4 linked regions of the Homo sapiens genome follow. The protein of the gene in region 4 interacts with the protein of the main gene of each other region in a pairwise test. Each region holds a gene or a part of one and is shown on either strand. Other genes may lie near its edges.

Region 1 (8,415 bases), on a different chromosome or scaffold from region 4:
GATTGGCCAGATTTGACCTGGGTGGGGTGGGTGGGGGTGAAGTAGAGTGGAGCAGAAAAAGAGAATTTTTCTGATGTTGAAACTCTTATTTTTAACTTTTTTTTTTTTTAAGACGGAGGTCTCACTGTGTTTTCCCAGGCTGGTCTTGAACTAGCCTCAAGCGATCTTCCCACCTCAGCCTCCCAAAGTGCTGGGATTTCAGGTGTGAGCCACTGCACCCAGCCTCTGGTGTTGAAACTCTTTAGGGGTGTAGGAGAGTAAAGAAAAAGAACCAGCCTGGACAACATAGTAAGACCCCATCTCTACAAAAAATAAAATTAGCTGGTTGTGGTATCACGTGCCTGTTGTCCCAGTAACTTTGGAGGTTGAGGTGGGAGGATTGCTTGAGCCCGGGAGGCAGAGGTTGCAGTGAGCAAAGATTGTGCCACTGCATTCCGGCCTGGGCAACAGAGTGAGACCCCATCTCAAATAAAAAAAAAAGAAAAAGAAAAAGAAAAGAAAAGAAAAGAGAACAGCCCTAAACCCAACGTTAGTCAATCTGCAAAAAAATTATTTTGTTTAATGACTACCTATCAAATGTATTATGAGGTTGCAGAGCTTGGTAAGCAAAGGGAAAAAAGGGGAAGAATGTATTATGAGATATAAAAAATGAATTAGAAAAAATTTAATGAGTTAGGAGACCATGAGAATCAGCCAAGGTATAATAATAACTAACTAATTATTGTGTTTGGCAGTATTCTAAGGACATCATTGTATTACCTTTTTAAATCTTGACAAGAACGGATGAGGTGGGTATCAGCCACATTTTACTCTCAGGACGATTGAGGCACAGAGAGGTTAAGTAACTCACCAGAAGTCACACAGCTGGAAACGGTCTCAACCTTTACCCACTGCCTCAGGCAGCCTCTGAGTACTGAGCAGATGCTGGCATTGGAGTTAGAAGGCATTTGAGGCTTACAGCTGGGCATGTACATGGGCCTTGTGGTCTCTGGGAAGTTGTCTAACCTTTCTAAGCCTCGGTTTCCTTATTGTCAAATAAACATAATACTTACCTGGCTGATTTATTGTGGGGATTCAATTAAGCCCAATATGCCTGAAGGCATTTTGTAAACTGTGGAGCACTAGTTCAGTGATTATTGTTATAATCTGACTGGGGAGACGAACCCGAGACAGCAGAAGTGTGAGCAATCAAGCAGGCTGTGATTAACTCTTCCTTAGAGGGATAGATGTGGTACTAGGTAATGGGATAATTACCAAGAGCACGTGGATAAAGCACAGGCTTTGGGGTTGGGAGCCCTCCCCGAGGACTGAAGCACATCTTGTAGCATGAGTTAGTGCTTGCTGGGTGGAGGAGGGGATGGGGCATTCCAGTGACAGAAGAACATAAATAAAGAGACATCTAGACTAGGCAGATAAACTTCCCAGCGGGTGCAGTGGAGACTCATTGGCTGGGGTAGACAGAGAGGCAAAATTGGCCACTCCCTCCTCTGAACTATAGCAGGGCTGGTGACCTCTCCTAGTTCCTGTGACCTTGTGCTGGCATCATTTCTCTCTGTGGCCCCCATTGAACACTGAGCTTATTGAGGGCAGGTCTGTGTCTTGCTCTTGCCTGCATCCTGAAGCTCATGGTTAGTGGTGAATGGGGTCAGCAAGGGAACCCTGGGCCTAGGTGGGTAGTTCAGCCCTGGGCCACAGGATATATTAATAATTACTTTATTTATTTTTATGTAAGAGATGGTCTCGCTCTATTGTCCAGTCTGGAGTGCAGTGGCACCATCATAGCTCAGTTTTGCCTGGGACTCCTGGGCTCAAGTGATCCTCCTGCCTTAGCCTCCTGAGTGCTGGGACTACAGGAGCATGCCACCATGCTTAGCTGATCTTTAAAATTTATTTATTTATTTATTTATTTATTTATTTATTTATTTATTTGAGACAGAGTCTCACTCTGTTGCTCAGGCTGGAGTGCAGTGGCGCCATCTCGGTTCACTACAACCTTCGCCTCCTGGGTTCAAGTGATTCTCCTGCCTCGGCCTCTCGAGTAGCTGGGATTACAGGCGAGCGCCACCACGCCCGGCTAATTTTTTGTATTTTTAGTAGAGACAGGGTCTCACTTGTTGACCAGGCTGGCCTCGAACTCCTGACCTCAGGTGAGCCGCCTGCCTCAGCCTCCCAAAGTGCTGGGATTACAGGTATAAGCCATCGTTCCTGGCCTAGAATTTTTTTTGTAGAGATGGGGTCTTGCTGTGTTGCCCAGGCTGGTCTTGAACTCCTGGGCTCAAGCAGTCCTCCCGCCTTGGCTTCCCAAAGTGTTGGGATTACAGGTGTGAGCCGCCGTGCCCGGCCTATAATTACTTGTTTTCTTATAATGCTCCAGGGTCGCTGTTGGTCTAGCCTTGCCTCCCGCATACCCAGTCTAGAGCCTGGCCACATGCCCATCAAAAGACTCTCACTGCTCTGCCTGCCTTCTTCTGTCCTGGCGTCTATACCCTCAGACCAGCCTTGCATACCTACTCCTGCCAGCCTCCTCCAGGAAGCCTTGCCTCCTCAACTCTCCTGCACCATCCTCACATTTCACCTGGCCACTGTCACTGCCAGAGGAGGCACCACTGACCTGCCTCATGGCCCAGCCACTGCACCCATCTCCAACCAGACCCTTGGTGTGTTCCCCACCCAATCCATCACAAGCCACTTTCAAGCTTTAGGGAAGTGAAAAGTACTGCCTGCCCTCAAAAAAAAAAAAAAAAGAAAAAGAAAAGAAAGGAAAAGAAAAGAAAACCCAGCCGTAATAAGGAGACCTTATCAGGAGTACTTTACAGTTTATAAAGCATGTTTCTAGCCATCATTGGGACCACACGGTGGTCAGTCATTATCATTTTCATTTTATGGATGAGGACATCGTGACTCAAAGAGCTTGGTAACGTGCCCAGGGTCATCCCACGGGTGAGTGGAAGGGCCAGGATTCAAAACCAGGACTCCAGGTTCCAAGTGTCAGGCCCGTTCGACCACACTGTCCTCCCACCAGCCAAGAGGGCAATTCTGGAATCAGCCAGGAGGGCTGTCAATCACAGGACAAATAAAATAGTCTGTTTTTACTTAGCTGGAAAATGGTTTTCTCCATGGTTTGTTTATTTCTTCAACATCCGTTTAGTGAGCACATACCGTGGAGGAGACACAGAGATGAGTAAGATAAAGAGACCGGCTCTGGGGGGCTCGTGAGTCAGCAGGGAGGCAGACTGGCCACTGCGGGGCTCCTGGACAAGCCTTGGGGCTCTGATGTGGTCAGGCCCCGAAACACCAGCATCACCAGGGCCATTAGGATGTTGGGCACCACCCAGAACTACTGAATCAGGACTTGTCGTGTTCACCACAGCCCTGGGTACTCTGTGTACGCTGATGTTTGAGCAACAGTGCTCTGTAGTAGGTGAGTTCTGGGATTAGAGGAAAAGACACAGAGTGGGGAACAAACCTTTAGAGAGTCAAAATCTCTTTGGGTGAGCCGGGCGCAGTGGCTCATGTTTATCATCCCAGCATTTTGGGAGGCTGAGGCGGGAGGATGGCTTGAGCCCAGGAGTTCGAGACCAGCCTGGGCAACATAGCGAGACCCTGTCTCTACAAAAAAATCAAATCAAATCAAATAATTAGCTGGGCATGGTGGTGCTGCCTGTAGTCCCAGCTACTCGGCAGGCAGAGACAGGACGATTGTTTAAGCCCAGGAAGTTGAGGCGGCAGTGAGCCGTGATCACACCACTGCACTCCAGACTGGGTGACAGAGCCAGACCCTGTAAAAGGAAAAACAACACAAAAAAAGCCAGAAACAAACAAAAAAAGTCGGTGGATAGCGCATACGTCAGAGCAAAGGATCTTAATGCATCCTGCGTTGAGAAGAGCCTTAGATCCTAGAGAGAAAGAGATAGAAACAAATATTTATTGAGGGCCTGCTGGGTACCAGGAACATGCTGGGTGATTTATATCTATGATTTCATTTTAATAGCTCAGGCTCAGAGAGGCTAAGTGACTTGTCCAAGGTCACACAGCGAGTGAACCGAGAAGCCAGGACTTCACAACCAAATGGCAAAGTCCTTTTTTTCATGTTTACGTTGCGGGTACTTCTGCCCTCTTGCTCATGATCTTAAGCAGATGCTCAGCCTTAGTTCAGCAGCTAAAAAATTTTAGGGCTGGGCTAGAAGGATCTGCGGTTCTCAACCCTGGCTGGAGAGCTCTTTGAAAAAATAAAATACTGTTTCTCTGGGCCCCCTGCATAAGGATTCTGTCTCATTGGTATGGGGTGATCATTGACATTTTGTAAAGTCCCAGGTGGTTCTCATGTGCAATCAAGATGGTGACCGTGGGTCCTGATGGGTTCCCACACCCCTGGCACCCCACGGACTTTGGGTGGCTCAGTTGGTTCTGGTTATACTCAGAAAACCAAGATGGCCCTAAGCCTGCTTCCTGCAGGTAAGAAGCATCTGTGTCAGGTTTGTTCTTTAGGAATGCAAATGCTCAGAGCCAGGCTGTGTAGCACCCTGAGCCTTGAACCTGGCGCCCCACCCCTTCTGCTTCTGGAGCAGGTGCACAAAGAAGTCACCCCTTGCCTGAAGTCTGAGCAGGTGCCTTCTTGCAAGGAGAGCTGCTCGTGAACCCCATTTTTCCATTTACTTGACAATCAGAGCTGGCGTTTTTTTTTTTTTTTTTTTTTGAGTTGGAGTCTCTGTCACCCAGGCTGGAGTGCAATGGCGCCATCTCGGCTCACTACAATATGTGACTCCTGGGTTCAAGTGGTTCTCTCACCTCAGCTTCAGGAGTAGCTGGGATTATAGGCGTGCGCCACCATGCCCAGCTAATTTTTGTATTTTTAGTAGAGACGGGGTTTCATCATGTTGGCCAGGCTGGTCTCTAACTCCTGACCTCAAGTGATCCGCCCACCTTGGCCTCCCAAAGTGCTGGGATTACAGGCGGGAGCAACTGCGCCTGGCCCAGAACTGGCTTCTTAAACTTCTGTACCCTTCTATCTCCCCAACCTTGCTCCTTTAGTGGGTATTGAAAACTTAAGAAGGAAGTTAAGAGCTTTCTTTTGGTCCCTGGTTTTGTACTGTCCTGAGTTTCTTCCCAGTGATGGTAATGGTAATCGTCAACATTTACTGACCAGGCATGGTGGCTCATGCCTGTAATCCTGGCACTTTGGGAGGCTGAGGCGGGCGGATCACTTGAGGCCAGGAGTTCGAGACCATCCTGGCCAACACGGTGAAACCCATTCTCTACTAAAAATATAAAAATTAGCTGGGCGTGGTGGTGCATGCCTGTAATCCCAGCTACTCGGGAGGCTGAAGCAGGAGGATCGCTTGAACCCGGAAAGTGGGGAGGTTGCATTGAGCCGAGATCACACCACTGCACTCCAGCCTGGGCAACAGAGAAAGACCTTGTCTCAAAAAAAAAAAAAAAATTACTGCCCACATACTGTGTGCAAATGGTAAAGGCCTTACATGAGCCACCCTTTTCGATCCTTGCAACACATGTATGAATTATAATTCCTATTTTAGGCTGGACACGGTGGCTCACACTTGTAATCCCAGCACTTTGGGAGGCCGAGGCGGGTGGATCACCTGAGGTCAGGTGTTCAAGACCAGCCTGACCAACATGGAGAAACCCTGTCTCTGGTAAAAATACAAAATTAGCTGGGCGTGGTGGCGTGCGCCTGTAATCCCAGCTACTTGGGAGGCTGAGGCACGAGAATCACTTGAACTCGGGAGGCAGAGGTTGCAGTGAGCTGAGATCGCGCCATTGCACTCCAGCCTGGGCAACAAGAGCGAAACTCCGTCTCAAAAAAAAAAAAAAATCCTATTTTACAGAGGAGGAAATTGAGGCTTTCAGGGGTTGATAGCTATGCTCTCTGTTTGTCCTTCTGTCACTGCCTGGCACCCTCTGCTCTCTTCCTCCTTATGCTTGGGGTCCCCAAGGCGTTGTCCTCACCCCACTTCTCTTTTACCTCCTGTCCACTTCCTTTGCCCTCACCTCTGTCTGATGGTTTCTGTTCTCACTTCTGTGGCACTGACTCCCCACATCTCCCTCCTGACTTCCCAGCCTGAGTGACCACTTCCCACTGGACAACTGTACCCCCTCGGGCGGCCCCATGGCAGGACAATGGTCCCCACCTTCTCTCTGGTGTCAGTTCTGAGCCCTCCCTCCTTCCTGCCCTCACAGCCGCATTCTGTTGAGTGCCTCTGTGAGACTTGTCTCACCCATTCATCCTGTGAATCTTGCATTTCCTGCTCTTATTACATCTTGCCTGGATTTTTGTCATCTCATCCTGCCTGCCCTCTAAATCACCTGTTCTGGACAGTGTCCCTCAAATCCAACACTGTGATTTTTGTTTGTTTGTTTGTTTTGTTTTGAGACAGAGTATCGTTCTTGTCAACCAGACTGGAGTGCAGTAGCGCGATCTCGGCTCACTGCAACCTCTGCCTCCTGGGTTCAAGCTATTCTCCTGCCTCAGCCTCCTGAGTAGCTGGGATTACAGGCGCCTGCCACCATGCCCAGCTCATTTTTGTACTTTTAGAAGAGACTAGGTTTTGCCATGTTAGCCAGGCTGGTCTCGAACTCCTGACCTCAGGTGATCTGCCCACCTCAGCCTCCCAAAGTACTGGGAATACAGGCGTGAGCCATTGCGCCCGGCCGCTTTTTTGTTTTTTAAGAGATAGAGTCTTGCTGTGTTGCCCAGGCTGGAATGCAGTGATGCGATCATAGCTCACTGCAGCCTCGAATTCCTGGGCTCAAGTGATTCTCCCACCTCAGCCTCCTGAGCAGCTGGGACTACAGGTATGTGCTGCCACACCCAGCTAATTAATTTTTTTTTTTTTTTTTTTTTTTTTTTTGCAGAGACAAGATCTCACTACGTTGCCCAGGCTTGTCTCAAACTCCTGGCCTGAAGCGATCCTCTCGCCTCAGCCTCCCAAATTGTTGGGATTATTGAGTCACTGCACCTGGCCCAACAATGCTTCTTCTTTTTTTTTTTTTCCTGTTCTAGTTTCTTATTTTTATTCACTTGTTAGAATTTTGGTTTTTTTTTTTCTTCTGTTTCCTCTACACTTTTTTTCCTCAACTTTTAAGTTCAGATGGTACATGCGCAGGCTTGTTACATGGGTAAACTGCATGTCACTGAGTTTTGGGGTATGAATGATCCTGTCACCTAGGTAGTGAGCATAGTACCCCATAGGTAGTTTTTCACCCCACTTCCCCCCACCATACTCCCCCTTCACTGACAACTACTTTTATAACTGCCCTTTTTCAAAAACTTTTGCTGCCTTCTCTGAGACCCTGCCTGATATGGCACCATCAGGGTCCCTCGTCCCTGGTCCCTGGTCCCTGTCCTTTTTTTTTTTTTTTTTTTTTTGAGACAGAGTCTCGCTGTGTCTCCCAGGCTGGAGTGCAGAGACCCCATCTCTGAAAAAGAAGATTAAAAAAAATAAAAATAAAGGGTTGGTGCTGCACGTTAAGAAGGATGGGGCGTGTCCCTATGGCCCAGGAGATCAGATTCCCTGCCCCACTTGGGCACTGAAAGGGTTCCCCCTCTGGCACTTCTGCAAGGCACTGATGAAGACTGTTTTCTGCTCCCCATTCATTGGCCCACTTATTCCACTGCCTCAAGGCGAGGTGTGGCGGAGACCTGGGTGTGGCAGCGGGCACAGCCTTGTGCAGTGGGCTGGCAGCCAGCTCTCCTCCTGCATCAAGGAGGGTTGATGACCTGGAGAGATGCCCACCTGGGAAAGAGAACTTGTCAGCCCCACCTCCCGGCAGGGTGGTGGCTGTTTCCTGTTTTCCTGCCTGGGCAGCCAGGGAGGAGCTCTGTTCCCAGTGTGTGGGCAGGACTTGTGAGGGGAGAGGGACCGTGATTTAAGGTGTCTGCTGGCTCAGAGGAAGAGAGAATGGCATCTTTTCTTGGATCAGAAAGGTTGCTGCTGCTGCCTCTGCTAATACTGCCACAAGACAGCTCAGGAAGCCAGTGTGGCCTATGGCTTGTGTTTAACACAAGTAACACTATCGTTTAAAGGCATGTTGACACATTACTCCTTTGAAGCCACAGAGCAAGCATGCAGTAGATGGTTGTGGTCAGTTTTCAAATACAGACACTGAGGCTCAGAGAGATTAAAAGACTTGTTTGAGAGCACTCAGGAAGTGGCAGAACTGAGGTTTGAACCTGGCTTGTCTGGCCCCAAATTTTATACTTTCTTTCTGTATCTCCCTTTAAAGCGGAAGCCGGGTCAGTGGCTTAGATATGTGTGACTTAGAAAAGGTACAGACATTTATTTTGCTAAGTTTTTTTTTTTTTTTTTTTGAGATGGAGTCTCGCTTTGTCACCTAGGCTGGAATCCAGTGGTGTAATCTCAGCTCACTGCAACCTCCTGCTCCTGGATTCAAGCA
Region 2 (7,064 bases), on a different chromosome or scaffold from region 4:
AAATACATGCAAATAACAAGATTTTCTTACCTCTCAGTTGTTGAAACACTTTGCTTCTTAAAATTGATATGTTGAAACTTTAATTCTTTTATCAATCCCAGCATTTTGAGATCAGTCTTTATTAATAAAACCTGTTCTCTTTAATCAGCTTAAAATCCAAAGTGTCATATTTACTGGTCCTGGAGACAAACTTGTTCAAAAGAACATCAACGTGCAATGTTTTAAGGTCTATCTTAAGAAGCCCTGGCCAAATTTTGATCCTAACCTTGAAGTATGCCTTGAACTTATTAACATGGCCATTATAAGAATAAAATATGTAGTTGTGTCTTAATGGAATTAATAAATGTCATTTCACTACTGGTGTTCTGTTTCAATGTATAAGGACTATAGTGATTTAAACTCATCAATGTGCCTTTGCATAAAGTTCATTAAATAAATATTGATGTGGTATAAATGCCCATCAGATATGCTTAAACTTGGTTTTCAGTTGAATGAAGTAGAGAATGTCCTCAGGACCATCAGCATTTTAAAGGTTATGTGACTTTTGCTGATTTCTCTGAGTTCAAGTTAAGCATGAAGTTAGTACCTCAAGCCTGTGATTTTTCCCTAGGGATGATACAGACCCAAGAGGCTACAACAGAACTTAAACTGGCTTCGTAATTAGAGTTTTTAAGATAATTGTTTGTTTTTCAGCAATATAGACTGAAAAGATCCAAGCATATTTAGCCACTTGCTTTTTTGTTTCTTGTTTTGTTCTTCTTTGGATGCCTGATTAGTATTGAAAGATAGAAATATTCTATGAACTAATTAGGACAGATTGTGTTGTGTTTCTCTACCTCATCTTGTTGATCTCTGGAGCATTAAAATCTATTTAGTGTTGTCATCAGTGTGGTACTTATGAAATGTAAGCTAACAGCAATCTCAGAAGGGAGGCAGTGAAGCATAGCAACTAGGCTCTTGTTTCTTCAAGATGGCCCCTGTGGGGCAGTGCATAGATGGGGGTGTAAAGAGAAGCTGTTGGCATTAAAATGAGCTAGATAATCAGCCCTTGTTGAAGCATATTCCATGGTATAAGAGTAGCACAGACATGAAACATAGATAAAGAAGGAAGGCTTAATAGACTAGAAGACTTCCACATTGAAGTATTATTAACCCATTGTATGTATATAGGGGCATGATCAGAGTCTCTATAACTTCCTGATTAACAATACAGTGTATCTTGTTACCCAGCTGTCAGTCTTTGAGAGCTTTCAGTAAAATATAGTAAATTCTTTCAGCATAGGCTAATGTGTGGTTACTGAGATGAGTGTTGTGTACTCAGAACCGTAGCAACATTTTTATGAATGGTAAAAGTACAAGAGGAGGAAAAGTTAAAATTAGAAGAAAAGTACAAGTTATTGCTTAATCATAAATCACACCAGATAACACATTTTGTTAATTTCATTAGCTATTACTGGAAAGGACCTTAACGATTATTTACAGAAAGGGGAGTGAAATTCATTGAGGTTCCATATCAAGTGGGCAACAAAACTATTACTAGCATTTTGATAAAAATTGCCCCTAATGAAATCTAGTCACTCAACAGTAAAACAACAGCTGGTTTACACTTGAAATTATGAGATCAGAATTGGGCACTTTGGGCTTCCGTACTATGTTTTGCTTAAGTTTTTTTTTTAATACTAATATGGGCTTTTTCAGTAGTAATATACCAAAACACTTCTATTTTAATCTCTGTTTGCTACTTCAAAACCTAATCCTCCTCAGATGGGATCATGAGCATAAGAGGAAAAGAGAAGAGAATGAATACTTGTTGACCTCTTGATGTGTATCAGATGCTTTAGAAATGTAATTGTATTTAATCCTCAAATACCTTATAGGTATTATTATCCCCTTCTTACAGATGAGGAAAGTGAGGCCCAGTTTAAATAACTTGCCCAAGGTCCTTTGGCTAGTACTGGAAGGAGTCAAGATTTAAACACAGTTCTGTCTGAATCCAGAACTCAAAATCTACATTGCACATGTTGCTTTCCTGGTGGTTCGGTGGAATGGACTGCAACGCATTAGATACTGCTGTTATTCTTCCAGGCCACCGCTCAGCTAAAAATAATTGTGTGTGTGTGTATATATATATATATGTACACACACACACATATATATACACACACACATATATATACACATATACATATATATACACATATATATACACACACATATATATGTATATATATACTACATTCTTGATCCTAAGTCTTTTTTAACTTAAATTTTATTACTTATACAGAATTCTTATTTATACTTTAATTATAGGTGTGACGAAGAGAAAGAGAGTAGGGAAATACACAGGCAGTGGTTTTAAGTGTAGATGATGGCTCCTTAACCCAGTGTCATTAGATAATCAAACCTAAAGTCTTCCCATATTAGGCAAGCGCAATTCTCTATTTTGGACCCTTCCCATTCTTCCCTTACCTTCTGCTTTTCGTACTGAGGAATTTCGTGTGATTTTAGATAAAGTGATAATGAGATATTGAGCAAATAAGAAAATAGAGGTAATGCTATAAAAAACTAAGCTATGTACACTTTCAAAATGCATGTTTCTTGCATGCTTTTTACTACTTAATTGCATTCTTTGCTAATTTCCTTTCCTTGCTGTCTGTTCTTTTCTAACAGCTGAAGAATGTTCTGCTGACTCTGACCTCAACTTTCTTATTCCTGTTGCAGTGGGTGTGGCCTTGGGCTTCCTTATAATTGTTGTCTTTATCTCTTATATGATTGGAAGAAGGAAAAGTCGTACTGGTTATCAGTCTGTGTAATCAGTTAAATCTAGTGTTTGTTTGTTTTTTTCAATTAGAAGTTACGTTTCCATTGGCTAAAAGCCAGGACATGCTGTGCAATAGATTGTTTAAGATATGCAGACTAACTTCAGTGAGTTCCTAGCTAACTTGGGCATGAGTACACTTATTTAAGACAAAATATATTAGGACCAATTTTTTTCTGTTTTTTTTCTTCCTTTGTTAAAGTATAATTAAAAGAAAAATTGTGGCTTAGAATTTTTTAAGTAAATAATGATTTTAAGCCCCTGGATCCAATTATGAAAGCATTTTTGCTGATGTGTAATTTTATATGTTACAGTTACTTATATTTTACTACTTTGATGTTATTTGCAAAATCAAAGGTGTTAAAGAATTTAACTTGCTTCAGGAAATAAATTCAAGAACATAGTGGATTCATTTTCATTGGTGGCAGACACGAAATTTGGTTCATGATAAGACTTCCTTTCCCCACCTCCTGATCAGCATTATTTAAATCTGTATTTTTCTGTTAGTTAAGAAAGAAATGGCTTCATGATATTGTATTTAATAGCAAAAGTTTGGCTGTCTTCTTCATTACTGTTAATAGCTACTATATTTTAACAAGGAGATTTCTTTTTTTGTTGTTGTTGTTCTAGAGTTTGGAATATACTGATTATCTCAGACTTGACATTTATACTGAAGGATGAAGTAAGACCTCCAGCTTTTTTTAAAAAAGGTGTTGATTTGGAACACCTGTATGGGTTATGGTTTATTAAGGTTATGGTTTAGAAAGTTTTTTTCCCTCAGAGCCTTAACTTGTTAAGAAGGTTCATTTATCCTGCACTGAAAACAAAAACTCTATATACTTTGTTTGTGTGCCTCCTGCACTCTCCCATTCCCTATGTGAATATGCTCTAGTTGATATTTTTAATATATTGATTTCTTTTTTCTCACAGCAACAAGTGCTTACTCTAGAGGTTAGTGGGCCCTGATATGTCATCAGTCAGATGCCTGCCTAGCCAAAGCTGGACTAAGATTATTCTGTACATTTGTTGATCTTGATATAGACTTATATCCCTGTAGGGACTGCTAATGGCTCCGGCTTCTGGAGTAAGGTACTGGAGACCACTCATCCCTGTGTCTGCTTGATTGGTTCAGCTGTTGAATTGCCCTTTTATTTGGAAGCAGTGTTGAAGTTGTCTAGGGTTCAAATGGCTGCTTTGTACACCTGTCATTAGTATAAGGCAGATGTTTATTTTATCAAGCTATTTTATCTCTACATTTAACTAAAAACAAAAGTTCCCAAAGATCTGCCTTCACTTCAGAAATTTTTTTTGGATTAAAAAAATTAAGCCTGAACCTTAAATAAAGTGAGTTGGTTATTCATTCCAAGGATTAAGTCCCAATCTACCTCTCAGCACAATGCAGAAGCTCACCACTGTATTGCTGCCATTAACTCATGCCAGAACCCTTTGCCAATAACTGGAATTACAAATTTTTGTTAAAGAAAATTTATCAAGATCTTTCTTTACTGCCTTCTCTATATGTACATCTCAAAAACATGTACATCTCAAAAACTGGAGTAGAAAGTTAGATTGCTCAACTACAACTCCTCTAGAACTCTATAGCTCTGACATACAGATTCACACTCTCCTCTATTTGCTAAGTATGTAAAGAATGTTTTCTTTTAAAATGTTCTCTTTTGAGAACAACTGCTTATTTGTTATAAAAGCATTTGGTTAAAATGATGTCATCATAAAAAACAGTGGCTTTGTTTCAATACATATTTTTGAGATGATTATCTAGAAGCCAGATTAATAAAATCAGCTTGTGACCTTGCTAAGCATATAAACTGGAAATTCAGATACATTCAAAATTATGGGTTCATTTAAAAGTGTTCTACCTTTTGGGTATGAGACTAATATCACTAATTCCTCAATAGTTATCATGGCTCTATCTTAATTAATTAGAAAATATGTGTGTTTAATTCTTTGAGAATTAAAATAGAGAATATTAACAGAGGGTTAAAAACTGCTTCAACTCCAATAAGATAAAGGAAGCTCAAAATCTATGAGCTGAGTGTTCAATTAGCTTTGCCTACTGAGTTCAATTTTATGTCAATACAACAGTGGATCAGACAGTACGACTTTGAACTGGTGAATGTAAACAATTGTTTTTCACCTAAGCTGCTTTGGAAGAACTGATGCTTGCTGCTAACTAAAGTTTTGGATGTATCGATTTAGAGAACCAATTAATACCTGCAAAATAAAGCATACTGTGGTACTTCTGTTTGATCTAGTATGTGTGATTTTAGATTGATGGATTAAAAATTAATAAAGATCATACATTCCATACCACTATGGATAACCTCATTTTTATTCCATATGCTCAGCCTTAAGAGCTTAGACTTAATTGTATAATCTAAGTTTCTTGAATTCTAGTCTCTTGGATTGTCAACAGGAATCATAGGATCTCATAGATCTGCAACTTAACCAAGTCCCGTCATTAGGAAGGCACTAGTACAGAACCTTTAGTACAGACACCTCAAATAGGGGGACCTACTTAGTCATGGAAATTACAAGAAAACATCAAAAACAAAATATGGAAATCTAACAAATGTAAGAACATCATAACAAACGTACTTTCCGCGTATGTCTGTCTGCATTGATGAACTATACTAATTGTTGAAGTTCATTTCATTCTGAGTGAGATATACCTCAGGGATATGGTGGGGCAAGGGGAGGAGCTATCCATTTTGTGAATTTCCTTTAAATTCCTTACAATCTAGTCTAATGCTTAATTTTTATATAATTGGATAAAACAACAACACATACATAAACATACTCCTTTTTACATGAGAGGTATTTTTGGTGGGAGAAGGAATTAGACATTGGCTCCCTCCATAGTTCCAGAATAATAGGGTTTCATTTTCTGAAAGACGTTTAATAGCTTGTAATTAAGTCAAAAAATGGCCTTCATAACTGCCACCTCATGAGGCCTCTGAAAGAAGCACTTTAAGTTGACTGATAATTAGGAAGAGTGGTTCGATATATGTTGCTGTGAGGGTTACAGTGTATCTAAAAAGTCAACTTGGAGGGTCATCTTTTTAACTTCAATGTGTATACTTTTTGAATGCCAGAACTGCCTTTAGAATTCTGATGAAATGTTTTTCCTTTCCTTTGTTTTTACTGTCTGCATGTATTTTGATAGCAGTGTAAGTTTGGGTCCCTTTAATTTCAAGAGGTATGCATAATGAACAGGAGAAATCTTGCCATACAATGCATCTTTAGTAGGAAAAATCCATAATTTTATTGAGCAGTTACAGTGCTGTGCACTTTAAACACCTTATTTCATTTAATACACCAACTCTCTGAGGTTGGGGGTATCATTTCCAGTTTACATATGGGATAACTGAGGCTTGAGTTGGTTACTTAACCAAAGTCACACAGGATTAAGTGGCAAAATGGACATTTGAACCCAGTTCTGTTTGCCCGCCAAAGACCATGCAGTTAACCACTATACATCTGCCTTTTGCAGAAGCAATAGATTTTTTTAAAGCACATGCCTTACATTAAATGGTTACAGAAATCTGACTTCTGTACTCTTCTATCTTGTATGTAGTTGCCTTATAAATATTCTTCAATATTCTTAAAATAACTTGAGTTTTATCCAGCCCACTTGTGGGGCAGATGGATGTTGTGGCAGCATGCCTTTTGGAAGATCAAAACCAAGGCCAGTTTGCACTGTACCTCATCAGTAATATTAAGCCCGAATGTCACTTTTTTCAGGGTAGCCTCATCTAGTTATTCTGATCACATATCATTGTCATTCTGCTCTCAAACTCTTCTGTACCATGAATCATTTTGACTGTGCATTAGTGTGTTTAAGAAACTAAATGGAACTGTCTCTCTTCTCACTTTCCTTAATACCATTCATACCCCTTCCCTTCATCCCTCAGCTTTAAGCGCATTGTAACCATGACACTCAACTATCTTTGCCAGGTGGTTCTGAACCTTATTAATACACAGTTCCTATTCCCAAATCTAAGGCCTTTTGGGAAGGGTTTCAAGAATTTTTTTTTTTTTTTTTTTTTGAGACAGAGTCTCACTGTTGCACAGGCTGGAGTGCAGGGGCGCGATCTTGGCTCACTGCAACCTCTGCCTCCCAGGTTCAAGCTACTCTTCATACCTCAGCCTCCCGAGTAGCTCCCAAGTAGCTGGGATAGCCACCACGCCTGGCTAATTTTTGTATTTTTAGTAGAGACGGGGTTTC
Region 3 (9,372 bases), on a different chromosome or scaffold from region 4:
GACTTTAGCCACTTTATAAGGTTATCATTTGAGATAATAATGTAAAGCACTTAGCTTAATGCACATGGTAAGCAAATAAATGTAACTGTTACAGTGTTAGATATAAAATATCTTCCGAATTTGTCATTACCTTAAAAGGAAACTAATTTAGCATAAGCTAGTCTGTTGTTGATGTTGTTTTTGAGATGGAGTCTCACTCTGTTGGCCAGGCTGGAGTGAAGTGGTGGGATCTTGGCTTACTGCAGCCTCCGCCTCCTGGGTTCAAGCGATTCTCCTGCCTCAGCCCCTCCCAAGTAGCTGGGACTACAGGCATGCAACACACACCCGGCTAATTTTTTTATTTTTAGGAGAGATGGGGTTTCACCATGTTGGCCAGGTTTTGAACTCCTGACATCAAGTGATCCACCCGCCACAGCCTCCCAAAGTGTTGGGATTACAGGTGTGAGGCACCGTGCCCAGCCTAGCATACGCTATTCTCTATAAACTTATGTTGACTGCTCCCCCAAGTGAGGTTGCTAGACAGAGGAAAACTTATTCTGTGAGCAGAAGAAACTGGATACTCATGATAGACTATGATGAGCTGTATAGGTCTCTTCAAGTTAACATTCTAAAAAAAAAAGTATCAGACCTTTAGAACTGCAACCCTCAATCAACAAATAATTCACAACCAAATCAGTAAGTTCAAATATGTACTCTAAAACTTACATTAAGCTTGGAAGGATACTAACGTATTCACAAGAGAGAAACAATCATTAAAATATCTCATACAGAATGGAGGGAAAGGGGATGTCAAGATAAGCAACAACATTCCAAAGGACCACACCACTGAAACATCTTGTTTGTTTTTCATAGCAAAGCCAAATCAAATCCTAAGGTACATGCCTCAAGCAAAAAAAATTAAGAAAATGAAAGCAAAATACAACTAGAATTTAAATTTTTTACTCTGAACTGTGCCTAGTTGGTTGGTGATATTTAATACATATTAAAGATAGGCACATCAGTTTGTAAATCCACTGGATCTCCAGAGCATGGACCACAAACAGCTATCCCTAAGAAGAAACCTCAAAACCACAAATCAGGAAATAAAGTGGGCAGCCTCATTTCCTTCTGTAAGTCTAGGAAGGAATTTAGAAACACTAATGTTTTAAAGGAGAGATTTCAATATCAAACTAGAAGAATCCCTGCATTCTCCTTTCCTTGGTCCCAAAGCAAACAATTTACAGTTTGGGAAAACACACACACACACACACACACACACACACACACACCCCTACCTGTTTTCACTAACTTCAACAAGACACTGCCTAAGTGGTGGTTTTAATCTATCAAGAAGCTATATATCTCCTTTGCACAGTTTGGGAAAGCACACACACATACACACCTGTTTTCACTAACTTCAACAAGATACTGCCTAAGTGGAAAACACACACACACATACACACACAAAACCTGTTTTCACTAACTTCAACAAGACACTGCCTAAGTGGTGGTTTTAATCTATCAAGAGGCTGTATATCTCCTTTGAGAATTTGATAAAAACAATGGACACTTTCCCCAGGGGGGAAAAAAATTCACTCAAACAAAACTGCATATAATTTCAGGGGTGGGAATGAGGAAGACCCCTGAAAGTTGTTGACCCTTAGGCCATGAACCCCAAGTCATCATCCAGGATTAAGGCAAATCATAATCCAAGGAAAACCAGTTTATCAATTTGGAAAGAAACTAAAGTAACTGAGGCAGGGATTTAATCCACAAAATACATTAGAAATCTTTTCTCTTTTCTCAGATAAAAGTGTGTTAGACTTGGTAGTTGGGAGAAGACGTGGGTCATGCTAAGCAAGGAAAACAAAACAAAAAACACCACAGGACAAACGAAAGAAAAGCAGAATTAAGGCAGCAGTAAAATATAGTAATCTGTAGCCGCTCTGAGAGAACAGCAATGAAATGGCCAATTCGGCCGGGCGCGGTGGCTCACGCCTGTAATCCCAACACTTTGGGAGGCCGAGGAGGGAGGATCATTTGAGGTCAGGAGTTTGAGACCAGCCTGGCCAACACGGTGAAACCCCGTCTCTACTAAAAATACAAAAATTAGCTAGGCGGTAGTGGCGCCTACCTGTAAACCCAGCTACTCAGAAGGCTGAGACAGGAGAAAAGCTTGAGCCTGGGAGGTGGACGTTGCGGTGAGCCGAGATCGTGCCAATGCACTCCAGCCTGGGCGACAGAGTGAGACTCTGTCTCAAAAAAAAAAAAAAAAAAAGAAAAAAGAAAAGGCCAATTCCTGAAGCCTTAACAGACGGCTGACTTAAGGTAACCATTTCTGGTGCACATTTCTATGCCAATTAAGTTAATTAAATGGCAAACATGAACACACCCTTACAGGTGAAAGTATGAAAGCAAAAGTTTATGCGAAGTTCTGGATCTCTTCCGGCTTTTCCTTATCAAATAATAATGTAGTTAGATGAATTTTATACTTTAGGAGAAAACAGGGTAGGGGCGGGGGACAGAAATCCTAAGAGTGGCCAAAGGATCTGCAGGAAGTATAAAGTGTAAACTTTTTGAAATCAAAGGGCTCAAGAGGAAGGTAAGAACAAAACAAAGGAAGTAATAACAAAATAAAGTAAAAGGGAAAAACGTCTAGCATCTAAAAACTGTTTTTAAAAAATTATTTCCTTTTCCTAGACACGTAAACAGTAGTAACTTGGCAAACAGGAACGGAGCAGAAGACAATCGAACAACTCCCTTTCCAAAACTCCAGCATTCCTTAGTCAGGCTTGGGACATTTCACAGGCAAGACTCCTCTCTGCACCACTGCCAGATGAATCTCTCAGAGGGACTGTCACTATCTCCCTTCCTCCCACTGCGGGAGAGAGGAAGCTGGGGATGCAGGGAGAAGAGGGGAGAAATGAGGGTTGGACAGCAAGCCTGAAGGTGGCCCACTCCGACACTTTGTCAAGAAAGGTCCGGATTCTGGATCCTGCAACTCCTTTTCCCACCCAATGTATGCAAAGCCAAGAGAGTGCCTCCCTGCAAGGGCCGGTCCTACACCTTCACTCGACTGTTTCGGGGGCACACTCAGAGGGACAGAAGGAATGAAGGACAGAAGAAACCAAAGGCATAACACTTGGGCAGATACGGCACAGACTAAGGAGAGGCGTGCCCTGTGAAAGTTCGGAACGGTGAACCCGTAGGCAACGTGCCCGCCCCACCAGCCACCTCAAACCATCTTTCCCCCGCCTTTTCCCAGGCGAGCCAGCTCCGCCCTCACCTTTCTTAGGGTAACTCGGTAGCTTCTAAGTCGAGGCTTATCCTTTCCGCCGCTCTCTGGAATCGCCTCAACCCTGGCAAAAACTGAGCGGAAACGCGACCCGGACCTTTTCCTTCTTCCCCTTCCCCCACGCACCTCGGCTGCTCGGGGGCGGGGAGCAACTGCAGCTGTCACAAATTCACACTGACCAACCGCCGAGGACAGTCGGACCGGCGACCTCTCAACCCAGCCTCCAGAACCAGAACCAAGAGCAGCGAAGCCGGAAGTGAGGAGACCGGAAGTAGCGTTGTCCCTGGCCCTGGACGGCCTCTCTCTCCCTCAATCCGGCCTTGCCCGGCCACGTCTCGGTGGTGTCAGCGCACCTCCCACGAGGATCCCTCCGCCCTTCTCCGGGAGGCGGGCTACGCCCCTCCCTCTGCTGCCCTAGCAACCACATCCGGGACTCCGGCGGTGTCGTTGCCCGGGTAATTTTCTGGCAGCGACCTAATGCGCGCGGGGCCAGAGGCACCGGCTAGAGCTGGGAGCTTGCGGAAGGGCGCCCCTGCCTGGTCTTGAGAGGTCGAAGGTCTCCAGGAGGCCTCCGCCTCCCTCTTTTTCATTCACACACCCTAGCCTCACACGTTAGGAGGACCCCCCCAACAGACCGTGAGCTGGTGCCGGGAGGGTGGAGGTAGATGTACCTCACCTCCACGCTACCACAGAAGAGCGAAAGCTGCTTTCTCAGCCACCGGAGAGCACGAAGAAGGTTATTCCAGTCCCGGGGGGAAGGTGGGGGTGGTAGGGAGAATGCGAAGATAAGGCAGCAGACGGAATGCGGGCGCTGCCTCGCGCTGCCCCCGTGCCTGGGGAGCCCTCTCCCTTCAGAAAGGCTAGACCCCCGGGCCCGGCATCCCTGAGCTCTTACTTGCTCTGGATTTGTGATCGCTTTTTGCTTTTTGCTCGCTCTCTCACAGTAGATTCCTTGATACTTTTCTTTCCGGCTCCTCTTTCTTTTTCCGGATGACCGAGCTCTGCTTTCTTTGCTTGCCCCATTACTTCTTAAATAGATCATTGTTCTGTCACGGAAACTGCTGAACAATTCGCTCTCTCAGAGCCCTTCGTAGTTTCCTAAACGGGGCCCCAACCTGCACTACTCTCCCCATCCCCAGAGCTCAGTGGTGCGAAAGCGTGGCTCCCCCGTGGCGCTAGATAGACCTGAAGTTCATTTACACACTGTACCATACAGTTGGTCCATCACAGAATATCCCTTCGAACTGCTGGACTGCTTTTCCTTTGACAGCTTTGAATGCTCATTTTTACTCCCATTTCACTTGTAGAAATGCGAAGGGTAACTGTGCACACGGCGAGATTTACCCTTCTTTAGACCGTACTTCTCAGCTGCCTTTACTTGTCACAGTAGCTGACAAGATATTTTTAATGACTAATGCCCAAAGGCAGAGCTCTACCTCTACAGATTTCCAGGGAGTTTCAGTGTAGTGAAATATCCCTGGCAGGTATCTTCCCCAGATCTGTGAATAGTAAACACCTATGGCACCATAAATGTTTCCAATGTATAACAATATTGATTGAGCTCTCTAGGATACCACCTCTTAAAAAAATAGTACTGAAATTCCAAAACATAAATCTCTTATCTTAAGTGGTTCTGTCTTAAACAAAAGAAAGGAGCAAATATATATGCCAACCCACTCAAACTGTAACTTCAATTGTTATAGCTTACTGTGGATTTTTCTGTACAAAGCCATCTTGTTGGTTTGGAGACCATTAGTCTTCTCAATTATAAGAAAATAATCCCAATCTAAATTAATTACTGCTGTAATTGTGTAGGAACTGAGCAACTACAGAACTTGCAGCTAAGTACAAGTGTTGTTCCTAGGGTTTCAGAAGGGTGACTTGGAGGAAGTGTACGGTAGGACTCAGCGGTGCTTGAATGATGTGGACAATGAATACTAAATTGTTTTTGCTGGCTGTTATCTTAAAGATTCCTGCTAGCTGTCTCTTGAGTTTGGAGATGCTTAGCTTGACTAAAGTTAGTCTAACTATTAGACTGTCAGACTCTGAAGTGTTTCTTATTTTGGAAAGGTGAAGACTTGCTTTAGTTTGTTCATAGTTTCCTTGGCAGCTGCTGATGGTTTTGATGGAGATTCAGATGGATTTGGAACTAATGCTAACTTCTGCTTGGTGAAGATGCTAACCAAGTTAGATACTCTTCAGTGAATTCTGGTACTGTGTACGATTAATCCTCATCCACAGTATTACGCTGTGCAAGGCTATATATACACAGGATTAATCTTTCCATGATTTCCACTGCCCTGAAGGAAATTAGAATGTAGTCTGGCTCCAAGAAAACACTAGAAACTACTTCAGCTGGTGATGGAAAATAGTGGAATTCTATACATCCTTTGAGACAATGGAAGCAGCAAACCAGCGTTCTTTGGATTGGGGAATATTTTTGGTACTAACTGAAAAACATCATTTTAAGCCTGGCCCTGCTTAGAGGAGACTTGTTTTCTCTTCCCTCTCTCCCTCTCTTCCTTTTTTCCCTCCTTCCTCTTTTTCTTTCCTCCTTTCCTTCTTGTCTCCCTCCCTTCTCCTTCCTTCCTTCTTCCTCTTTTTCTTTCCTCCTTCCCTCCCTCCCTCCCTTCCTTCCTTTTTTCCTTTCTCCCCTCCTTCCTTCCTTTTTTTCTTCCTTCCTTCCTCCCTCCCTCCCTTCTTTTCTTCCTTTCTTCCTTTGCCCTAAAACTTGGGGGACCCTGCCTGCTCATTTTGTTTAGAATAGAAGATTACTACTTTTCTCTGAATTGTCATTTATTTTTAGAGAGGTAAGAAAAAAGGGAATAGCTGCCTTCCATATATACTTATGACATGGAGATTATCTACTCATTTAACTTTGCACTGCTATTGGCTGTTTATTTGGCTTTTGAAAAATCAGGTGCTATTTATTCATTGGGCTTGTGGGGAACTCTAGTAGCCCTGAATGGCATTTGTGGCATACTCAATGAAGTCTAATTCTTTATCCTGGCATTAAAGGCTTACCAAGATCTGGCCTCAATCTTGCAAATGAGCACTCTCTTATATACCTGAAGGAAAAGTGCTAATTTAGCCAACTAATAGAGATAGGTATAAATACCAATATAGACATAGATATGAAACTTTAGTTGCAAAGAAATGTTTAATATGCTTCAAAGTGCATATTTCCCTCTTCCATGCTTTATTGTCTATTCTTATCAGCAGAAATGTTTTCCTATTTTTCCTTACCTGTGATGTACCTATCCATCCTTTACAGTTGAGTTCAGATGCTACTTCTGTCATGAACCCATTATTTATCCTCCCTGTGAGAATTCATTTTTCCCTGTTTTTGGATCTTACAGCCTTTGATTTGAGCCCCCATTTCAGTCTGCTTTATACTACTGTCTTGCATGTTTTCCCATGATAAATAAGATGGTTTTTGGGAAACTGAACTTTGGACTTACTTGATTCTCTTATAACACCAGGAAATTGGCCAATTCTAGTTGAGTTATGGAAATATGTTGTCTGCTGCATACCAGGCAAGTTCAAGAATACCAGCAACTCCTGCTACTTAGGGTAATGGTACAAGTAGGATTAAGTGGATATAGTTGCTATCTATCTGTAGAAGACAATGAGTGAGTGCTGTCTTAAGTTTGGAAAGTAGTTGATTCTCTGCAGAGGGGTATAAACTACTGATGAAAGGAGAGTGACTCATTACTCCTAGAGATTCTGAATGGGAAGAATGCCAGCTTTATGTTTTCTGATACTGATTTTTTTTTTAATAACTTGGTGCAAAAGTAGAACATTATTCTAAGATGACTGTTGTGGAAGAAAAAAAAGGTAGAACATTAGAGTTGTAAAAATGTTTTTAACTATAAAGAGGAAAAAACTGAACTTATTTATAATTCATTTACCTAGAGAGAACATTCAACATTTTGGTCAATGTATTTTTTTTCTTTATATCTATGTAGATATATATTTCTTCATTTATTTAACAAATTGCTACTGACACCCTATGGTTTGCTGGAAGTGAGCTGTGTAGGAATAACCATGAGCCTCTGCTCTGATGTAATTTTTAGTGTATGTTGTATTTGTTGACATATAATTTTATATTTTGCTTTTTTCACTTAATGTATCATGGAATTTTTTCATATCATTAAATATTCTCTTTGTGTGGCACAATAGTATTTCAGCATGTAGATATTTTGTAATTTATTGAATGAATCCTTTTTGTTGCATATTTTCAATTTTGTCTGTAATTATATAGCAATGCAGGGAATAGTCCCGTGTAGCAGGTGGAATTCTAAGATGAACTCCAGTGACACTTACCTTGTATAATTCCCTCTCCCTGTGAACATGATGGGATATTACTTCCATGATTATGTTATGTTACTTGCAAGGGAATTTTGGAGATATAATTAAGGTTGCTAATCAATTGACTCTGAATTAATCAAAAGGGCAATATTCTAGGTAGACCTAACCTAATCAAGTGAGCACTTTAAGAACAGAGAGTTTTCTCCTGCTTGTGGCAGTAGAGGAAGTCAGAGAGATTCAAAGTGTGAAAGAGACTCTACAGGAGGAATGTTCTCCATTGCTGAAATGACAATTTCCCACAGACAAGGACCTGAGGGAAGCCTCTAGAAGCTGAGAGTAGTCCCTGCCAACAGCCAACCAAAAAAACTAGGGACCATAGTCCTACAACAGCAAGGAACTGAATTCTGCAAACAATCTGATTGCGCCTGGAAGCAAATTCTTCCCCAGAGCCTCCAGATAAGAGCCCAGCTTCTGACCAACATCTTGATTTCTACCTTGTGAGACCCTAAACAGAGGACCCAGTTGAGCCCACCTGGACTTAAGATCTACAGAACTGTGAGATAATAAATGGGTGTTGTTTTAAGGCATTGAGTTTGTGGTAATTTGTTGCATTAGCAGTAGAAAACTAATACATTTGTAAGAAATTATTTTTACATCTATAATTATTCTTTTGGGATAAAATCCTTGATATAGGCCGGGCATGGTGGCTCACACCTGTAATCCCAGCACTTTGGGAGGCCAAGGTGAACGGATCACGAAGTCAGAAGATGGAGACCATCCTGACTAACACGGTGAATCCCCGTCTCTACTAAAAATACAAAAAATTAGCCAGACGTGGTGGCACATGCCTGTAGTCACAGCTACTTGGGAGGCTGAGGCAGGAGAATTGCTTGAACCCAGGAGGCAGATGTTGCAGTTAGCTGAGATTGCACCACTGCACTCTAGCCTGGGTGACAAAGCGATACTCCCTCTTAAAAAAAAAAAAAAAATCCTTGATATAGACTTGCTAGATAAAACGTTATACACAGTTTTAAGGTTTGTATATCATATTGCAAATTTGCCCTCCATAAGCGTATTGTAACAATTTATGTGCCTCCTAACAACCTGTTACCTCACCCCAGCAAACGCTAGATACTGACATTCTGATAGGCAAAAACAAAAATGTTTTTTTTAAAAGAAGATTATGTTTTTCTTATTAATAGTAGGATTGACCATTGTTTTCTTTATTTGAAATTAATTTGGTGAGTCTTTTTTGATGATTTGCATATTCTTATTTTCTGATTAGCTTAACCATTGACATAGAGAAAATATTCCCTAACATGTAGAATAGCATTTCTCTGCTGTAATATTTTCAAGAGGGAGAATGATTAATGAGCTTGAAAGGATGACTATTCTGAGAAATATTAGCTGCTGCCATTACTCCTTGCAAAAGAATATCCCAGATGTTATACTGTTGGAGTTTGGAGAATGTCAGCTTCATTGATCAGGTAGTATTGATGCCTTATTCTTTTCTAGGGAAAAAGTCTAATTTGTCTGTTTGGCATTAGAAATGTGATTATTTTTAGGAATAAAGATGTATCTTATCATGGAAAATTGTAGCTTTGACTAATGTTAACTCAGGGGAAAAACCTAATCTTCCTAAATAAAGTTATCACATTTTCAATTTTCTCAAGATAATGAGCAATCTCTGATAGTATATATTATGTCACTTTAACCAGGATGGGAAAAGAAGAAATTCAAGTTACTTTTTCTATAATCCTTGCTGTTTGACATGATAGATTTTATTT
Region 4 (7,000 bases):
CGCCCAAGCTGTTCTCCCTCCCTGCTCTTCCCTAGCGAATCCTTCAGGACATAGCTTGGTGGGAGTTCCTCTCTGAGAAGCTCCTGCCGACTCTCCAGGTGGGGTCAGATCCCCGCCGTGCTTCCCTCTGCTCAGCACTGACCTGTCACTGTTCACTCTGCAGTTAGCCCGGGGTAGTAGAGGTTCCCCCAAGACAAGCATGGGTCAGATGCATGTCTCTTCCCCCAGTACCTAGCACAGGGGGTGGCACAAAGCAGGTGCATAGTGTTTGTGGTTAGAATAAATGAATAAGTGAACAAATGAATGAACACATGACTAGATAAAATCTAGCCCTCCTTACCCCCAGGCTTGCTGATCTGATCCCCAAAGCCTGGTCTCATCCACCTACCCACCACACCGTGTCTGCTCTTCTCCGGGATGTGCAGGGACTATCTGCAGAATCACCAGTGGGGCCCATTTTCTGACCTGGGGACTTCCTGAGTCACTGGGGCCCTCATTTGCCCTTGTCCTGGGTCATCTGTGAACTGAGCACTGCCTTGGCCAGGGCCCTGGTGTCTTGGCGGGAAGCAACAGCCTCTGCCACAGGGTTCCCTGCCCTGCTCTGCTGGATTTGTGGTCAGCAAGGAGGAATCCAGGACACCGGCTCTGCAAGCTTCAGTCCTGACCTGGCATCCACCCAGTGACATGAGTGGAAAAAACCTTTCACAGGGCAGGTTGAGAATGAAATCCCTGCCGCAGGGCACAAACCAGCCTTCTTGCCACCAATACGTGCCACCTTTCCCTTTTGTATCTGTTAGTATATGACCTGAATGTTTCTTTCATGTCACTCCTCTGCTCAAGAATCATCAATTAATCCCCCTTGCCCATCAGAACAAATCTGAGCTCCGTGGCAGGAATTCAAGAAGCCCCATGGCCAAGCTGCGGCCTCCCTCTCTGACCCTGTCCTCCACCACTCCAGCCAGGACAGTCTCCTTCTTCCTCCTTCCTTCCCCCAAGGCTTTGCCTATGCCATGCCCTCTGCCTGAGATACCCTCACTCCTTCATTCTACTGTTTTAAGTCCTGGCTTGCAACTCCCACCTCTTCTGGGTTGCCTACCAGCTATCCAATGTTTGATAACTCATTTAAGAAAAACAAACAACTAAGCCCTTCAGCACTTAAGAATCACCAGGCTTGCTTATGCAAAACCCAGGCCATCCCAGACTTTTCTGAGGATGGTTCTAGGACACTAGATTTTTAAAGTTTCCCAGGAGAGTCTGATGCCACCAGCCCAGCTGGGTCCATTGACAGGCACTTGGAAGCACTGACGATACAAAGCTCGAATTATACATGTGCTTGGATGACACAGTGCTTGTAGGCTTGAACGACCCAGGTGCACATGGGCACCTGATGTCTACACATTGTAACATCATCTCTGCAGGCAACACTAACAATGATAACTGACTTTACTGGGGGCTCACCAGGTGCTAGGCACATGCTACACTCAATATGCATGATCTCATCCAATCTTCACAACATGCCTATTGGGTCGATATCACTAACCTCAATTTATTAATAAGGAAATTGAGGGCCAGAGAGGCTAAGTCTCCTGGCCAAAGTCACAGAGCTGGCCAGTAGGGAAGCCTAGTCTCAAACCCAGCGCTGTTTACTCCAAAGCTGGTGCTCCTCAGCCCTGGGCTAGGAGTCCATGCCCCTGGGCCATGAGCCTTCAGAGTGGGCACCCGGTTCGGTTCAATTCTGTTCCACCAGCACTACTGTTCCTTGCTTTTGCTAAGTCCTGGGGATAGAAGTATTGGCGGGGAAGAGGCCCCTGTCCTTGAAGGACCTCCCAGTCCATGTGGGGAGACTGGTACTCACACAGCTAGTCATTCAGAAGTGCTGGGGACAGAGCGGGGCACACAGTTTAGGAGGGATTCGGAGGAGAGGGTGCAGTGGAGATGGATTCCACCGTGGAAGGGGAGAGCAGGGCTAATTCAGGCTCCAGGGAACAGGTAGGGTTTGAGGGATGACAGAGAAGGGGATGAAGGGCACCTGGGTGGAGGGAACAGCATGAGCCAAGGCAGGGTGGCTGGAAAGGTGAGGATGCCGGGGCTGCTGCACGGGAGCACATGGCAGATGATTCAGCTGGATGGGGCAGTTGGGGCCAGATCATGAAGGGCCTCAAATGCCAGCCTGAGGAATCTGAATTTTATCTTGTGGGCAATAGGCAGTCATGGAAGATGTTGCAGGGGGGTGTCTCCCTCCACACTAGCACAGGGAGATGCTCAGTGGAACCTTGCTGCCTGACTTATTGATACTGATTTTTCTCCTGTCCCACTAGGGTCAGAATGGCCTGGGGCTACTGGATGATTCCTGGCAGGAACAGAAAGCCCTGCAGCTCTACCTCCTCTCCTCCATTTAGCTCTTCTCCGCAAGGATGGGCAAATTATTCAGCTTCTCTGAGCCTCAGTTCCTCATCTATAAAATGGGGACAGCTGGGTGCAGTGACTCACACCTGTAATGCCAGCACTTTGGGAGGCTGAGGCGGGTAGATCATCTGAGGTCAGGGGTACAAGACCAGCCTGGCCAACATGATGAAACCTCATCTCTATTAAAAATACAAAATTAGCTGGGTGTGGTGGCAGGCGCCTGTAATCCTAGCTACTTGGGAGGCTGAGGCAGGAGAATCACTTGAACCCGGGAGGTGGAGGTTGCAGCAAGCTGAGATTGCGCCATTGCACTCTAGCCTGGGCAACAAGCGCAACACTCCATCTCAAAATAAATAAATAAATACATAAAAATAAAATGGGGACAATACACCAACCTTGCAAGCTGCGAGGATGAAATGAAGAAAAGTGTGCACAGCACAACAGGTGCATTGTTGAGTCTTATGACGTGGACCAGGTGGCATCGTGGGAAGAGCACAGGCTCAGAGGACCTATGTTTGAATATCAGTTTCTCCCCTGGTAATACCCATCTCTCAGGGCAGATGGAAAAATTAAATTCAATGAAATGATTTATGGGAAGCACCTGACACTCAGCAGCTGCCTGGAACCCTGTTTGACACCTGTCTGACAGCACAAGCAATCCTGCTCCTCCTCCAAGCTTCCAGGGTGCTGCCTCTCTCACTCAGCATGCTGCTCCCCTCCTGCCCCACAGGAGGCATTTTATACACCTTAGTCCCTGCACTTGCTGTTGGCTCACCTGCCTCTCAGCACTGGGCACACAGACTTTCTTTACCCCTTGCAAGAAGCTTTTACATGCATCTTCCTCCTGGTGAATGCACTCACCTATTGTTTTATTTATAGGCAGGACAGTGGCTCCCTGATGCATAGATGAGGGAAGAGACCCAGAGAGGGAAGAAGACCACCACTGTCTAAGCACCTAAATGTGCCTGAGGCATTATACCCAGTTCTTCTCCACAAAAGCCCAAGAGGGAGGTATTATCCTCCCCACTGCATAAATGTGGACATTGAGGCTCTGAGAGGGGCTGTGACTTGTCCAAGGCCACACAGCAAGGAACTGGCTGAGGCTGAAGGTAAAACCAGGTCTTTCTGATTCTGGAGCCTGGGATTTATAACAAACATTTGCAATGTGGGGTCGACAGATCGGTCCCCCAGGGCTGTTTCACGGACTAGATAGGGTAATAGGGGTGACGGTGTCTTGCATGGTGACAGGCACACAGTGCTCAGGGACTGGGAGCAGAAGTGGAATCTTGCCCACCCTCACCCAATTTTACAGAGAATAGAGGAGCCCAGGGAGGGCTGTGATGTACCCAAGGTCATGGCGAGCGGTCGGCAGAGCCCAGGTTCCCTGCCCCTGGGCCCCCTGCCTTCCCTTGCCCACCCTTTCCAGTTAAGGGCAGGGGCCATCCCTCCAGGGCCTTTCCCTCTCCAGAGGGTGGAAACTTCCAGAGTCCCTCCAACCTGACAGGAGAGTGACCAAGAGCAGGAATTTTCACCCTGGCACACACACCTGGAGCCTGGAGCTGAACGCTAGAATCCCAGGCTTTGCCACCCCAAAAGGCCCCTCCTGACCCTTTCAGAGCCTCCCAGCCTTCTCCCCAGGACCTTCACCAGCACCTTGCCCCTCTCCCAGTGGAGAGGGGGTGCCCCAGAGGCTCTGATGCTCTTAGAGGGGACTGCAAGTTGGCAAGGCCAGGGGCATGAAGCACAGTGTTTTATGATTTTATTTTATCCTAGATAAGGTTGAAGAAGACACCCAGTCATAGAATGAGCCCCGCCTCCTGACAGCAGCCGGTTCAGAGCAAAGGCCTGCTTCTTAAACCCTCGCCAAGCCACTGAGCACTGGCCCAAATCCAGTAACAAGTCCTTTCTAATACCTCTTTCAGAGACTCCCCCTGGTTCGCTGTGGTGTTCATTCCCCCTTACTGCAAGAAGAAACCCAGCTTGTTAACCACAGGTGAGGTGTGCTCCCAGTGGTCTTTGGCTGCAGGGCATTGACAAGATAGGTCCCATCAAACACCCCCATCACTTCCAAGATTCCAAGATATGCGCACTTCATCTGTCATTTGCACATGAGAAAGCTGAGGGCTACGGAGGCAACCAGACTTGTCAAAGGTCACAGAGTAGGTAAGGTAACATTGTATCATCCAAATGAGGTATCTTCGAGCGTGAAAGGGGCCTCCTAATAACTTAGCAGAGGCAGTCGGTGTCAACCGGGACCTTCCTGGGCAGATCAGGTGTGTGGTCTCCCCATCATGCAGCAAGAGCCAGGGAGACCAAGCCTGGGTCTCACCATCTCACTCCACTACCCCAAGCCCCCTGCAGATGCTAACTCTAGAACAGGGTTACCATCTTCCTGCTGGCAGGCCCAGCAACCAGAGGCTCTTGTTTAAGTCTAAAGCCACTGCGGTTGTGGTTCAGGGGTGTGGGGAATCACTCCTGAGATTCAGCACCACACAGCACACCCCACGGTCATGCCACTGCAGTGAGGGCTTACTTCCGGAAGAGGGCCTCTGGTGCCCGTCAGGCGTAAGGCCTCACGTATCCTGCCCCGAGGGAAGGGGTGGTTTTAAAGAAAAGAATTTGCAGGTGAATGAAGATGACCCCTTTAAATGTTGAAAGTAGTTTTATTTTAGCCCTTAGTGCTGACGCTGTTTCTAACGTGGGTTGTAGGCTGCCCTGCCTTAGGCAACAGAGCACAGGAGCATGCTACCCCTCACCTCATCCGAAGACTCAGCTGTGACCAGGAACTCCTGTCCTGAGTCATGACAGCAGAGAGGGTGTACCCTGTGGCATCCTTCACTGCAGAGGCAGAAATGACCCAGAAAGAAAAGGAAGTGTGTTCCCAGGGCCATGACCTTGTAACCCAGCACACAGGGGCATCTCCTTCCCTAGGCCAGGACCCCCGGCCTCAACCCGGAAGCCCTTCCCTAGGCCGGGAACCCCAGCCTCAACCCAGAACCCCATAGCCCAGGTGAAGGTCTCTGACTCCCAGGTGGCCCAGGGTGCAGGCTCTGAGGGCGTGGTCCTGGTTTGAGGTAGTGTTACTGCCATTTTCTCTGCAGCTGCCAGGATCCTGGGCTGGGGCACAGGCAAGCGTTGCAGGGATCAGCGTAACAATAGCATCACCCTGAGATGGTTCAATAGGGTACAGTGATGTCTTCAGGGGCTGCAAAGACAGCTTGAGCTATTTCCCCACCATACTCAACTGCCCCAAACAGCTGGGAGGCTGTCACTCTTCTGCCTCTGGTGTGTCCATTTTTTACTTCTCTGTTCCCACCTCAGCTTCTGCTCTGCACTCACAGAAATCAAGCTCACTAGATTGTGAGCCCTCTGAAGGCAAGCACGGTGTCAGTAGTTCATGTCTCTTTACCCCTAGAGATCACAGCTCAATATCTGGCATATAGTAGATGCTCACTAAATGCCATCCAATTCCAATTGTTTTGTTTTGAGGCAGGGTCTCACTCTGTCACCCAGGCCGGAGTGCAGTGGTGCGATCTCGGCTCACTGCAACTTCCATCTCCTGTGCTTAAGCTATCCTCCAGCTCAGCCTCCCAAGTAGCTGAGACTACAGGTGTGCACCACCACGCCCAGCTAATTTTTGTAGTTTTAGTAGAGATAGGGTTTCGCTATGTTGCCCAGGCTGCTCTCCAACTCCTGGCCTCAAGTGATCCACCCACTTTAGCCTCCCAAAATGCTCAGATTACAGGCATGAGCCACCGCACCTGGCTAGCCAACTGATTCAAACTGAAGTAGGCCAGGAAGATGAATTTCACCTACAATTCCAAGTCAAAGCAAATGTATTCCAGAGGCAGGGGTGGGGGGTGGTGTTCCTCTGGGGGCTTTTTGCCTGCTTTGTGAATACATACAGGCCATTTAGAAGTTTGAATGCTGGGAAGTAAGAGGGCTGTGAGTCTAAAAGTTGGGAACGTGGGGGAGAGTGATTTTATCTGCAACAGGTTCCTGGGTCCTGGTGAGTTCTGTACACCCTTGATGACCACCGATTCTGGGCCAGGCCAAAGGCCCATCTGGGCACAGGCGATCTCAAGGTGAGTAAAGTCAAGATGCTGCCCTTCAACGGGAGGCAGGCAGCCATGCCACACTGACAAATATACAGGTCCCAAAGGCAGCGCAGAGAGGCAAGACCACCTGGTTCCAGGAGGCAGCGACATCAGGAAAACCTTTCCAAGGGAGGTCATCTGTGTAGGGGTTTGAAGGGTGAGCACGAATTTGCCAAGCTGAAAAGGGAGCCAAGGGCATCCTGGTGGAGGAGAACAGCTTGGGCAAGAGTGTGAGCCGCAAGATGGGCAGGGGGGCTAGGCTTGGAACTGGAGGAGCAGAGAGAATGAGGTCAGCAGGGGTCAGTCACAGAAGGTTTTGGGTCCTGGCCAAGGAGCGATGGGAGCTGCAGGAGGAATGTGGCCCAGGAGGAGATGAGGCTCCCTCTGTGTAAAGACGGATCACGCCATCTACCAAGTGGACTATAAGACACAATAGGAATGGGAAACCTGACTGGCCTTCACAAAGGATCAGGGGCCCAGAGGGAGCACCAAGGAAG

What was found.
Region 1: the proteins of BSND (region 4) and HIP1 interact in binary tests that used the Homo sapiens proteins (3 or more experiments, as listed by UniProt).
Region 2: the proteins of BSND (region 4) and LAMP2 interact in binary tests that used the Homo sapiens proteins (3 or more experiments, as listed by UniProt).
Region 3: the proteins of BSND (region 4) and ARFIP1 interact in binary tests that used the Homo sapiens proteins (3 or more experiments, as listed by UniProt).

The regions. Positions count from the first base shown.
Region 1 is NC_000007.14:75,727,760-75,736,174, reverse strand, and holds part of HIP1 (huntingtin-interacting protein 1), read left to right. Parts: intron 1-8,415. UniProt on the Homo sapiens protein: Plays a role in clathrin-mediated endocytosis and trafficking. Involved in regulating AMPA receptor trafficking in the central nervous system in an NMDA-dependent manner. Regulates presynaptic nerve terminal activity.
Region 2 is NC_000023.11:120,424,233-120,431,296, reverse strand, and holds the end of LAMP2 (lysosome-associated membrane glycoprotein 2 isoform A precursor), read left to right. Parts: 3' UTR 1-2,670; coding exon of another isoform or gene 2,671-2,813; 3' UTR 2,814-5,149; downstream 5,150-7,064. UniProt on the Homo sapiens protein: Lysosomal membrane glycoprotein which plays an important role in lysosome biogenesis, lysosomal pH regulation and autophagy.
Region 3 is NC_000004.12:152,774,120-152,783,491, reverse strand, and holds the start of ARFIP1 (arfaptin-1), read right to left. Parts: upstream 3,539-9,372; 5' UTR 3,266-3,538; intron 1-3,265. UniProt on the Homo sapiens protein: Plays a role in controlling biogenesis of secretory granules at the trans-Golgi network. Mechanistically, binds ARF-GTP at the neck of a growing secretory granule precursor and forms a protective scaffold.
Region 4 is NC_000001.11:55,008,933-55,015,932, reverse strand, and holds part of BSND (barttin), read right to left. Parts: 3' UTR 1-7,000.